Linked DNA regions of Homo sapiens. The protein of the gene in region 2 interacts with the protein of the main gene of each other region in a biochemical or structural test. Each region holds a gene or a part of one and is shown on either strand. Other genes may lie near its edges.

The links. The genes of interacting proteins can lie anywhere in the genome.
Region 1: the proteins of EXOC2 (region 2) and SERGEF form a complex in vitro, tested with the Homo sapiens proteins (one study listed by BioGRID).

Annotation. Positions count from the first base shown.
Region 1 is NC_000011.10:18,003,040-18,010,066, reverse strand, and holds part of SERGEF (secretion-regulating guanine nucleotide exchange factor), read left to right. Parts: intron 1-1,990; coding exon 1,991-2,126; intron 2,127-3,320; coding exon 3,321-3,476; intron 3,477-5,531; coding exon 5,532-5,626; intron 5,627-7,027. UniProt on the Homo sapiens protein: Probable guanine nucleotide exchange factor (GEF), which may be involved in the secretion process.
Region 2 is NC_000006.12:592,119-599,145, forward strand, and holds part of EXOC2 (exocyst complex component 2), read right to left. Parts: coding exon 6,962-7,027; intron 6,824-6,961; coding exon 6,742-6,823; intron 6,006-6,741; coding exon 5,903-6,005; intron 470-5,902; coding exon 351-469; intron 1-350. UniProt on the Homo sapiens protein: Component of the exocyst complex involved in the docking of exocytic vesicles with fusion sites on the plasma membrane.

The DNA of each region.
Region 1 (7,027 bases), on a different chromosome or scaffold from region 2:
TTGAATAAATTATAAAGATTTCTGAAATCTTAGTAAGATTCTCTCTGCAGGTCCACAATCCCTTGTCTTCAATTCTGAATACAAAAAGCTCTGAAAACCCAAAACTTACTGGACATAAGGCCATTTATAGTCTTTGGCCACTTCTTATGAATATTTGTACTTTGTAATGCAGAAATATTATTGTTTTGCTTATGGGCTGCTGTCCCTGGACCTTGCATCAGTATATATGACATATGTACTGTATTACTTTTCTAAAAGCTGTAAAATTCTGAATCTGAAATACATCTGACTGTAAGCATTTCAGATTAGGGATTATGGACCCTTTTTGTATAATAATAATAATAATAGACATATTGCCTGTCAAGGGGAAATCTGTCCCCTTACTGGAATCTCACCATGTGAATCTTGGAGTCACATAGCACTGTACTTGGAAAGGGCTTTAGAGATCATTGCCAGCCTCTTTCACTGTACAAATGAAATAATGACGTGCCTTGCTTTAAGGCAAGAAATCCTTAGCCAGCTTTGATTCCAGAGTCATTGTTGGTTTTCCCATCATGGGTGTGGGGAGGAGAAACAAGAACTAATTCCAGGATGTTGCCCTCCCATTTTGATGCCATTTCTCTCTCATTTTTTTCTTTCCTTAGCTTCCCTAGGTAGTTAGCTTTTATCAGAAGGAACCCCTGTGCTGTCTCCAAAAGGCAGTACCTGGGGGCTGGAGCATAAGAAGGGAAAGATGAGGAATATTACTGGCTGAGTTGTGGATGCCTAGGACTCTTCTCATATCGAAATCATGGTGTTCTGAGGATGGGGCCTCCATCTAAATATGGGAGCATATAACAGCCGTTAAGAATGAGCCTAACAGGTCATTTCCTCTTTGGTCAGTTTCCCACTTGACAAAGGAAGGGTAAGATTTACATTCCCAAATGCTCCAGAGTCCTTCTGGTGAGCGAATTATTATTATTTTTCTTTTCAGATTTTGGGGAAGGGATTTGAGGAGGGAAGAAAGGAGATGGGGTAAGAGTGTTTCTAAGTCTGAAACTCTCTCTGTCCTGAGCTGTTCCCGTGGTTACTCAAGGACAAGGGGAGACAGTTTTGCCCACAGCTCCAGAGACACAGATAACAAAGGAATGACCTTCATTTTTCTTCAGGTTGGACCCTGTAGGGGTCTGTGAGCAGCTTCTCCTGGAACTTTGTTTGGATTCTGTGTCCATATTTATAATTTATTTGAAACACGCTGGATAGTGTTCTCATTTGGGGGCTGAAGTTCAGCTAGGGAAAGCAGTGAGGTGGCATGGGTGCAGGAGGAGGGGGTAAGGAGAGATACGAGATACACCTGCCAACGACTCGTAGCCCAGAACTCTCTCTAGAGAAGAGAAGCCCCTCCTCCTCAAGAGGCTGTCTTGTTCTCAGTCAGAAGAACCTTGATTTAGGAGATGGCCTCTCTTTTCCTGGCCATTCTAAGAGGAAAGGCCATTTTACCCCATTACCTCCAGAGGGTTGGGCTAGGCCAAGGACCTCATAGGACTCATGTCCCCTTCAGCCATGGCTAGCATTGCTGCTTTGCCTTCTGGGGCCTGAGGTAGAAAAAAGTGTGGTTTCTTCAGCTGCTGCAGGAGGCCAAGCAGGGCATTTGTCCTTTGCCCCAGTAAATTAAGCCTGCCAGGGTGCCTACCTAGGAACTTTCCTGGACATGAATTTCCTCCACTGTTATGGTCATGAGTCTCTTTCTAATGGGATTACAGATCAGGGGTGGGGAGACAGTGTTACCTGTTGTTTTCTGGTGCTTGTTATTATATATTTGAATAAACAGTGCTGTGAGTATTTGCCGTGAAGGAGCTAAAAATTTTTTTTTAAAAAAGAATGAGCCTAATAAATCTCATCTGTTACAGGGTCTGAGAGATACGTCAGGGTGAGAGAGACAGAGACAGGTAAATAGACATTGACAGTTGTGGTTCCCACACTTTTTCATCCTTGGCTTATTCATCCCTAGGGTGCAAATAGCTATGGGCAACTTGGCCTCGGCCATAAGGAAGATGTGCTGTTGCCCCAGCAACTGAATGACTTCTGTAAACCCAGGAGTGTCAGGAGGATCACAGGAGGAGGGGGCCACTCTGCAGTTGTCACAGGTAATTTCCTTCAAAAGTAGATAGTCACTCATTTTCTTATTTAGACGTTTTCCCCTGGATATGATATTGCCATCTTTCAGCCTTTTGTATTTTGCAGAGGAAAATAATGTATTTTTGTGAAACATTTTTGTGAAAGAGCCAAATTACCATCAGAAGATCCTAGATTTTCAGGGCTAGAAGGACTTCAGAGATCTTCTAGGCCACCCCTTTCCCCCACCCCCTCCATTATACAAATGAAACTCAGAAAGGAACACTGATTGCTTAACATCACAAGGCAAAGTAGTGGCAGAGTTACAATGTATATTTTACACCATAGGAATTAGAAGTCTTTGTAATTAGATTGGATATTCCTTGAGAGCAAAAACTGTGTGTTCCCCTTAATCTTCCCTTACTGTATCTAGGATAGCACTTAACAAGTAGTACAAGTGCTACAATGTTGTAAAGGGGGGCATATTGCATCTGGTTGAGAACATGAGCTCTGGAATCAAATCTCTGGGTTCAGATCCTGGTTCTGTGACTTATTATCTATGTGGCCTTGGGCAAATAGCCACAGTTTCTGAATCTGTTACATGAGGATAATAATGGTGGGTGAAGAGAACCAGTGAGTTAGCAGGGCTCCATTCCGACTGTCATGGGTCGTTGGTGCTTTTCCCTTTATGGACCTCTTCCTTTGTAAAGAAAAAAATTATATTTTACAACTGTGTTGGTATAAAGATGGATATTAATAGAATCCACTCCAGATTTAGTGTTATATATGCATTGTTACTATATTATCTTTTTCTCATTTAAAAATAACTAAAAATTAAGCCACTCTGTGGGCCTCTGAAAGCATTGTGGGCCCTAGACACTGTGCCTAAAGGATAAGTCCGCTCTGCACAAAAAGCTCTTAAAACAGTACCTGGCACGTTCTCAATGTTGAATAAATGTTGTTGGCTTTTTGTTCCAGTAGATGCTCAGTTTGGTGATTGATTGACCACTGCGCCAAGACTTGAAGTTTCTCTGTAGGTATTAGTTTGAGGCCCTTGGCCTTGTGTTGTTTGGCTCCAGAATACATGAACATACACAGCTTATTAACTTGGATGGCAAAAAAAGTTATTGGTCTGAGAGTCCAAATAATTAGTGAAATCTTTTTGTTCATTTTGCAGTTGTGTTTTTTCCTGTGCACGCTATCACTGATGCCTTTATATTTTGCAGATGGAGGAGACCTCTTTGTTTGTGGCCTGAACAAAGATGGGCAACTGGGGCTTGGTCACACAGAGGATATCCCATATTTTACCCCCTGCAAATCCCTCTTTGGCTGTCCCATCCAACAGGTGGCCTGTGGCTGGGATTTTACGATTATGCTCACAGGTGAGTTCACTCCTAGGTAGATTTTTGTCACCACAAAGGCTTTGGGTGAGAACAGTATGATGATGGTGACTGCAGATTAAATGAAAGCCTCTTTGTGTTTAAAAAGCACACATAAGGCCTGGTGCGGTGGCTCACAATTGTAATTCCAGCACTTTGGGAGGCCAAGGCAGGTGTATCACTTGAGGTCAGGAGTTCGAGACCACCCTGGCCAACATGGTAAAACCCCGTCTCTACTAAAAATACAAAAATTAGCCAGGCGTGGTACCCCATGCCTATAGTCCCAGCTACTCTGTAGTCCCAGCTATTTGGGAGGCCGAGGCAGGCGAATCACTTGATCCTGGGAGGTGGAGGTTGCAGTGAACTGAGATTGCGCCACTGCACCCCAGCCTGAGCAACAGAGCAATAATCCATCTCAGAATAAATAAAAATAAATAAAAAGCACACACAAATTTTCCCTCTGGTTGTCAAGGAAAGTTGTGGACTACCTTTTCTAAGGAGAGTTTAACGGTAAAGGAGACTGGGATTGGGGTGGAAAACTTTTGTCAGAGAGTAGGGAATAGACTAGATCACCTTTGGTGGCCACTTCCTGTCCCAAAAGTTCATGATAGCTGTGTGCTTGGGGTAGCTGGCCAGTGGCCAGCAGTGGCAGCAGAGGGTTACTTACAGGGAATGTGGTAGGAGAATATGAGGCAATAGTGGTTGCCAAAGCAGTGATGGCAGCTTTTTCACACTGTGGGATTTTTTTTTTTCTAAATGTGTTAGGCAGATCTGTTTGGTCTTTGTGAAGCCAGGTAGCAGGATAGGATATGGCCAGAGGGTTATTAGAGTAATGCACTTGGGAACAGCCAGCAGTAGTTACCTTGTCAGCTGACGTCTGTTCCCTTGAAGCAGTTTTGACCTCTCTGTTCAGCTTTGCTCTGTCTAGCTGGCCATTCTGGATTTAAAGGACCATCTGTGGTTTCTGACCAGGCTCCCTCTTTGCCACGGTCCTTTGGCAAGGGCATCTTCTGTCACTCTCCTGTCATAAACCCTTGTGGATTCTCCCAGACATAGCTCAGATTCCTAGCTTTTTAGCGTTGGCCTTCTGTAACTGTTCCCTAGCTATCTTTGTGCTGTGTCTCTTATTCTCCACACTCCTCATACTTTTCTTTCTGGTCATACCAAGCAGTATATGTTCTTCTGTCTGTCTGGACCAGCCCCTCTTGTCTATCTGATGGACTCGAATCCCAGCTTTAAAACCCTGCTCAAGTGTCACCATCCTCCTCTGTGGAGGGGTTCTGTAATATGTGTTGAATTTGATGGTGATTATTAGAATCTAAACAATAACTATCATTTATAAGGTGTTTATTGTGAGCCTATGTTTTGGATTGTAAGGAGTCAGTAGATAATGCTCTTTCCTGCTCACATTTGGAGCCAGTTGTGAGAAAAGCACAGAGAAGTCAGTATTGGAGATTAAAAACTATTGGCTTTTCACTGGTAAAGGCTAAATTGGAGGACAGTATTAATTATGAGGCCAGTGGTCCTAATATTCTTCTGGTCCAAACTTACCCCCAAATCTCTAGGCTTTCCCCACAGGGAAATGCTTCCTATGTGTCAGCCTAGAATGACTGAGAGGGAGGTGCCAAGCCACACATGTCCTGTCCCATCTCCTAAACTCACCAGTTGGTTACATGACCGCTGTCCCCTAGAAAGCAGTGAGGATGGGGAAGGGCAGGGAGAAAAGCTGGAGTGTTGTTTTACTAATGGAAATTTTGTCACATGGAAACATGAAAAATGAAAAATTACTATCCTCCCATCCCAATACGAGGCACTGAGTTAAGTGTTCTACACAGATAATCTGTTATTAATGAGAGAATAGAATAGACAATCTGTGTAGAGTGCTTAACCTGGTGCCCAGTGTTTTCATTCCTAGAGGAATAAAAGCAGGGAATATGGTCTGAATGCACTGAAGCACTTCCCCTCATCCCCTTTGCATCTCTCACCCTGCAGCATTTACCCATTGGTCACAGACATCTTACTTCATAGATTTGCAATTTAAGTATTTGTATTTTGCAGAAAATGGTCAAGTTCTATCATGTGGATCCAACTCCTTTGGCCAGTTAGGAGTTCCTCATGGACCTCGAAGATGTGTGGTTCCCCAGGCCATTGAGGTGAGGACAGTTAATATTTAGCTTGCCCATGACCTGTTAAAGTGTTTCCAAGGTATTAACCTATCTCTCCCCAGAATAAAAGGCTGTCAGGATCCCTGAGAACCCATGGAGTAGGAGAATTTGAGTTGAAAAATAGGTCCTTCTGGGAAAAATTAAGTTGGGAGGTAAACGTTGTGAATGAAAACCTCTGTTAGTTTTCATACACTTCATATGAAGTTTTGTGAAATAAAACAATAAGAGTAATACATCTCATAAGGATATTGATGACATTTTACAGTTCTAAAATTAGTAATAATGGAAATTATGTTAGAAATAGGTCCAGATAGAAGTGATTTGTCGAAAGACACTAAGCTAGGCAAATGGTATAGGCCAGTGCTAGCCAGTAGAAATATAATGTGAGCCATATGTAATTTAAAATTTTCTAGTAGCCCTATTTAAAAAAGAAACAGGTGAAAGTAATTTTTAAAATAACAGCATTATTGAGCTGTAATTCACATACCATAAAATTAACCCCTTTAAAATGTATATCCACAGAGATGAGCAACCAATATCATTATCTTATTTTAGAACATTTTCATTACCACCAAAAGAAACTATGTACTTAATAGCAGTCAATTCCTATTCTCCCTTCCCCTCAGCCCCTGGTGAGTACTAATCTACTTTTTGTCTCTATAGATTTGCCTGTTATTTCAGCATGTCATCAGTATAAAGTTATTTTTTGTTTTTATTTTTATTTTTGAGATGGAGTCTCACTCTGTTGCCCAGGCTGGAGTGCAGTGGCGCGATCCCGGCTCACTGCAACCTCCGCCTCCCAGGTTCAAGCAGTTCCCTGCCTCGGCCTCCCGAGTAGCTGGGATTACAGGTGCCTGGCACCATTCCCAGCTAATTCAGTATAAAAATTATTAACAAGGTATTTTATACTGATTTTGTACTAAGTCTTTGAACTCTGGTATGCATTTTTTACTTACAATATGTCTCAGTTTAGTGTAATCACATTTCAAGTTTTCAAGAGCTATGTGTAGGTAGTGGCTACCATATTGGACAAAACAAGTGTTAAACAGGACTCTTGGCTCTAGTTCAGAGCTCTTTACTTCAGTGCATCATACTTAAAATCACCCCTTTTTGTGAAGTTTATATTGTAAGTGATCATAATAGGAATATAGAATTTTTAAAGAAATATGCTTGAATCAAAAATGAGTTTTACCACCTAAGCTGTCCCACTCCGATCTAATTTCCCTAAACTCTGATTAATAGTGGGAGATGTTTTTTCCCTAGAGAAAGCTTGGGTCTGCCCCTGCCAGCTTGCTGAACTCAGTTGTTGGTCTGTGGACTGTTATTTCGGGTCATGGTTCCCATGGTATGCACAAAGTCTAGGCTCTGTAGTCCCTGAAGGAAGTATTA
Region 2 (7,027 bases):
ACTAGCGATGGGTGCAGTGCCTGGCACAGAGCAGGACTCAACATACACCTGACGAGACGATGTGCAGACTGATAGTTACCAAAGACCAATGTCACCTCCTCGGCATCACGCTGCCTGCCCCGAAACGTCAACGCTGTCCACCAATCGCAAAAACAGACATGATAAAAGAGTTGTCCCTTTTCATTAGTACAATGCTAACCAGTGGCCAAAAAAACCACAAAACAAGCAAAAGACAATAATAAGAGATACCAAGTAAATTAGGTAGTCAGTGCCTTCATCATTAAACATTCCCAGAATGCATCAAAATGACATGAAGGAATCACACAACACATTGGAAGAGAAATCCTTGCCTTTCAGATCTTTCACGTAGCCCTCTTTGCAACTGTGCATGAGCTGAAGGATCCACTTGTGTTGGGCTCCAATGCATTGCCAAGCAGGGTCACCAGACGCATGAAGGTCAGACAGGTACCTGAAAAAGCAAGTCCAAGGTTGAGGCCAAAGGGAAATGCTGGCATATTTTAAAATCATTACTTTTTAAAGGCTAAAATTTTATCAATTAGTCTTGTGCCCTGTCAAATATTAGTCTTTAATATTTAATTCTCAATGAAATATATTCAAATTTCTTGGCTAGGTGAGATGGCTCCTGCCTGTAATCCCAGCACTTTGGGAGGCTGAGGTGGATGGATCACCTGAGGTCAGCAGTTCAAGACCAGCCTGGCCAACGTGCTGAAACCCCGTCGCTACTAAAAAAAAATACAAAAATTAGCCAAGTGTGTTGGTGCAAGCCTGTAATCTCAGCTACTCGGGCGGCTGAGGCAGGAGAATCGCTTGAACCCGAGAGGCAGAGGTTGCAATGAGCTGAGATCTCACCACTGTACTGCAGCCTGGGCGACAGAGTGAGACGCCATCTCCAAACAAACAAACAAGCAAACAAAAAATAAAAAAATAAACAGCAGAGCTTTAAAATTTTTTCATATAAATGATAAAACTATTAAAAACAGCTCTTTGTAAAAAGATAAGGACAATTTGCAGTGATCCTATCTACCTGATGAGCATTTTTCTTTATATTTATATTTAGTTCACAGGAGTTTTTCTACTTAGTTCAGAGTCATTATATTAGACACAGGTGGGAGCCAGCAGATACTGGGCAAATACTTTTAAAATTTCAGATGTTTTTTAATTCCTTTCTGATATGAAATATGGCCACGAGATGGCAGTATGGCACCGCTTTCTAAAACTAGCTAAATGAGGGCTAACCGAACTGTGAAGAGATTTGGTGACAACACTCACCTCTAAAGTCCACACTCACGACTGAGAAAATATTTCTCTAGGAAATATAGTATAGTTCGGTGTTTTTCTTAGTTTCTAAATATTCTTAAAATATATCAAGTCTTTGTCTATAAAACACCCAAATCCATAGAGACCATTTACTTCCATAGAAAAATTTCTGTCAAATATTATTTAAGATTTGGCCCTCAGCCCTCACAAAATATATAAATATAGCAAGCTAAATCCAATTAAATCAACTCCAAAAGCATGTCCAAATGAATTTATTGTCTTAAAACTGTTGTTAAGCCATATGCCATTCTTTGTCTCTGGGTTAGAGGTTTTTGTTCAGTGGTAAATCATCATCAATGGCTCCAGGCTGACCTTGGGCCAGACCTCAATCCCTCAGGGGTGCACCCATGCTTCCAGCCCATTCTTCCAGTAGTGAGTGTGTGTTACTCAGGTATCTCAATCAGCAGCCAATCAGAGGAGAAACAAATCCACTTTGTAATATGTTAGCAACAAATAAAATGCTGAGAACACTGACATTCCCAGCTGATGGGGAGGGACTGGGTGCTGTGGGGAGCCGGATATCCAGGCATCTGCAGACGGGCCACACTCAGGCTGCCCAGAGGTGGCTGAGAGCTGCCATCTCCTCCCCCTTGTGACCACCTACAGGTTGCAAACAGGATGTGTCTCTGTGCTGAGAAAGTGGCAGGTCAATTAGAAGGAAGAGCTTTACTCAGATTAAGAAGTCACCAGCACTCCTCCTCATAAATGAGAATAGTATCCTGAGAAGAAAACTACAATCTAACAAGTTACATTTAGCTTGGCACAGGGGATTCATTTCAGATTCCAAAATGCAGTCTGATTCTTTCTCTCACACAAGGCTTTCTTCTTTTATTACCTGAACGATAAATATAACAAATAGTACACTGTGTCTTTCTTCCCAAAGAACGTGATTCTATGCTTTCTTGCTGGGGATGATGCATTTCAGCGTTCTCCCTAAATAGGCTTGTTTTGCCTCCCAACACCTCTGCAACGCTTTCTCCTAACACTTTCACTCACGTAGCCCTCAGATTTGGTGTTAGTAGTAAAATAAAGAGATACTCTTTTAGGGACGGTGTTCCTTTTAATGTTTAAATTACTGAATAGGAGTGTAGACAGTTCCGTACAAGGGTTCTTTCTCCAGGAGTACAGCAAGAGGAATCAATAAGCTTTGCTTAGTGGCTTTTTACATTATACGTCTCTTTAAAATGTTGACTGTGTCCTTGCAAAACCTAATAACAAAAGACTTTTTCTATCATCTTATTAACGGGTATTAAAGTAAAGGAGTTTATAAAAGTTTTACAAAGCAAGATAAAGTTGTTCTTTTAGAAATTCTAGACTCAGTTCAAAAGCATGACAACTTGTGCTGGGCTCTTCAAATAAGTTTCTTGTTTCCTTTCAGTATGCAGCTAAAAATAAGTAGTTACATTTCAAAACTCTGTTTAGAATGATACATGTTATCGCCATTTCTTTTAAAACTGCATATTAAGAACACTTTAAAAAGGCTTTTTAGATTCAAAAGCAATGTAAAGAATGTTAATTATGATTAACACAGGCTCAGTATTTTAAAATTTAAGAATAAAGGAAGTTTTTAGTCATATTCTGACATGATCTTCTCACAGCTACCAGGGATAAGATCACACTGCTGTGGAAAGGAATATGCAGAGCTTTGCTTCCTGCCAACATCAAGATAGAAATAAGGAGAGGGAGAAGAATAGGGAAGGTTTAAATTAGATAAAATAGTGAATGATATTAGAAAAAATTGTGAACAGTAAGACAATATAGTGGTAATCTGATTTTCCCCTCTACTATGCATAATCTGGATTATGTAAGAAAACTAATACATTTTTGTTCATGATAAAGCTATCTCTATTCCTACTTGATGCTCATAAATTTCAAAGTCCAACAGGTATTTGACCTGGTTCTGATCTTATTTTTCTATTTCTTAGCGACTAAAAATTTCATTTAAAAAGGTAACAATTGCTCAGTATTTTCTCAAAGCATCGTAAATAAAATAATCATTAACAAATACATAAACTATTGTTGACTTGTTTATATTTTTGCTCTTTTGCCTTTAAGATGACAGGAAAAATCGTAGTTAAAAGGCTCCTTAAAAGAATCTTTTTTGGCACTACCACCTTTTAAACGATATCCAGTAAGTTATATACTCATAAAAACTGCACATGAGTTATCCATATAGATGGTAACCCACAACATAAAGAATTTGTACACTCAACAAGATTTAACACACTACTATAGGCAAGTTTAACATAACAAGTGTAAACAGGCCAGAAATATACAAAGCACACGCAGTGAAGGAGCAGGGCAGGAAACAGCAGCCTCAGGACGTCTGAGGCTACCCAGCTGCGTGTCCTGGACACTACGCTCAACCTCCCTGCAACTCTGTCGCTTTCTAGGTAGAAAATAAAGCAGTTGGATGACAAATGTGTGGTTTATTTCCAGCTTTACATTTCTAGGATTCTACAAACCAGGAAAATCCCCTATATACATTCTTTCTTATGGAGGCAGCTTAGAGAGAAACAAGAGTGGGCTCTGAAGCCAAACAGGCGTCCCGTCCCCCGGGTCACTGTGTGTGCTGGGCAAGCTTCCGTGTTTTCACCTGTACAATGGGCACCGCACAAGCGTCCTTTCATGGTGGTGATCAGGATTAGAGAGGACATGTAGAACACATCCCGCACAGCGCCTGAGCATGCTGCACACGTGCAGGGGTGGCAGCATGCAAACACAGCACCCTCTCTTCATCCCACCGCCACTGCCTCTGCTTGCTTCCTCCTGGGCAATACTAGTGTGCTGCCAATGACGACGGCTCATACTCCCGCCGTACGCCTCATCACTAGGACACAGGTCCAGGTGCGGATCTTTTCCCCCGTTCACACTTGCACACACAGCAGCTTTCAGGCCAGACGCTCTTTTCAAGACAGTCTTTTCTTTTCAGAGACAGGATCTTGCTGTCACCCAGGCTCGAGTGCAGTGGTACGATCACATCTCAGTGCAGTCTCGAACTCCTGGGCTCAAGAGATCCTACTGCCTCAGGCTCCTGAGTGGCTGGGTCTACAGGCATGCATCCCCGCATCTGGCTAATTTTTGATTTTTTGCAGAGACCAGGTTTTGCTATATTGCCCAGGCTAGTCTTGAACTCTTAGACTCAAACAATCCTTCTGCCTTGGCCTCCCAAAGTGCTGGGATCACAGGTCTGGGCCACTGTGTCTGTTCCTGAGACATTATTTTCAAAGGTCACATGGGGACCACAGCTAAATTCATAAATACATAGTCTGTCATTTTACAACCACTGAATAGTCAATAAACTTCACTAATTCAAGTGGAAAAACCATTAAATTTGGAAAATAATTTATTCTGAGAACAAAGGCCATACTCAAAAAATCCTAGCAGAAAATGAAGTTAATATTTTTAATCACAGATATAAAAAACTTAAAATTTATATGCTTTATCTCCAAACCCTGACATAAACTACATGTACATAAAATTTACTGACTACTTTTTATGTGCCGGGTGAGGTATTAAACCCTTAAATGTATTTCTGATTATCTTTGCAACTATCCTGAGATGCAGATTTGATTACCATGTCCATTTCAGATGAAGAAACCGAAAAATAGAACTCAAGTCGGTTGCCCAAAGTTAACAGCTAGTTCCCATTATGTGATACTGTTTCTCTCTAAGGCCTTCTCTTCATATCCTGTGAAATTCACCTCTCTTAATATCACTGCAAATTTTTTTTTTTAAGACAGAGTCTCACTCTGTTGCCCAGGCTGGAGTGCAGTGGTGTGAGATCTCGGTTCACTGCAACCTCTGCCTCCCGGGTTCAAGCGATTCTCCTGCCTCAGCCTCCTGAGTAGCTGGGATTACAGGCGCACATCACCATGCCAGGCTGATTTTTGTATTTTTAGTAGAGATGGGGTTTCACCACATTGGTCAGGCTGGTCTCAAACTCCTGACCTAGTGATCCGCCCGCCTCAGCCTCCCAAAGTGCTGTGCTGGGATTACAGGCATGAGCCACGGTGCCCGGCCCAATATTACTGCAATTTTTTAAAAAGTATGCTCACTTAGTGACTTTATTTCTCTTTCACTGACCACTAAAGGCTTGGAAATCAGAAAGCTATTCAAGGTTAAAACCTTCCAGAACTTACTGTGCTGTTAAGCAGCAGCACATTCTTGTGGCATAATGCATTTCCCACCCAGTGTGTGACAGTATTCTGCTTTAAGCCATGCAGGGAGCCCCTCCTTCACAGATTATGGGTACCCACACCATCCCACTAGGCAAGGTACCCCTTTGCTCAGCAGGAGGAAGAGGTTGAGACTACTTTTCCTTTCCCGAAAATGGCAGAGTTTTCTCAAAAAGTGAGTAACTCCATAACTACTCCCAAATCTATTAGTATTCAAAAGAATTTTGATGTCCTACGCCAGATAACCCTAAATTTCTGCTATTTGTCTTCCCCTTCACCATTTCATCAATCTCCTAAAGTCCCTCAAGTTAGCCTTAAGGGTTACAAGATGCATACAGTACCAAACAGATACATGTGATTCAACAAAATGTTTGCAGAAGATTTACCTTATGTAACGTTTTTGGTCATGTAAAGTTGATGGTGTCTCAAGCAATTTATCCAGAAGTAATTCTCTTAAAGCTTCAATCCTTGTTTCTACTTCAGCATAATCTATTTAAAAAGAAAAGAATACACAAGATTTACAGAATGAAAATTTAATATCAAATTTCAAAAAGCAGAATAGTAGTTGCTTTTGTGGGGTGAGGGCTAAGAGGCACCAGGGCCGTGTCTAGAGTGATCAGAACACTATCTCCGATGTAGGTTACAAGGGTGTACATATTTGTCAAAACTCACTGACCTCTAACATGTGAGGTCTGTACATTTCACTGCATGTATATTTTACCACAATAAAAAAATAAATTTAGTTTTCTGGGTCCTTACAGATTTCATTTTTAAATTTAATAAGGCCCTGTGATATTTCTCCTGGTGGACTGTAACTCTGGCATTAGACATAACTTCAAAAGTTGCTGAGCTTCCTTTAAAGGAGGTTGGAATTCTTCAGTCTATGGGTCTCTCTGAAGACGGGAAGATTAAAATGTAGGTTTCCATCTCTAGAAAATACTTGTCATTGATTCCTTCCAGTAAACTAAGACTTTCTAACAGCGTGATGGTTAACAAACGGCAGAGAACGTCTCAGGCGAACAACCTAGAGTCGTGGTTGCTCATTTTCACTGCGTATCAAATAAGAAAAGTCATACTGTTATTTCTGAAGTAATTGCTTTACATTGTAAAGAGAGCCTCATATAAACAAAAACTAAAAACTCATATAACATTCTTTGCAGAACACATTCCACATTCTTCCTATAAAAGGAAAGGAGAAGATCTAAAAGTAATACATGAATCTTACATTTCTTGAAAACTTGCACCTCCGTTTTCCCAAAAAGTGACTTGGCCTTTTCATAATCATTAATAACCACATCATAATCACCCTTTAAAATAAAGAAACATTTTGAAAACTGTCAGTAATGCAAAATGAAGACATTTGGTTAATATAAAAAACATCTTAAAAAATCTTAAAAATGTATGACATCTACAACCATATGTAAATAAATAAACATGTACTCTACCTTTTGAATATTCCTTTCAATATTTAGAGGAAGGTTGAAAAGAAACTTAAATCGCTGAAGCACATT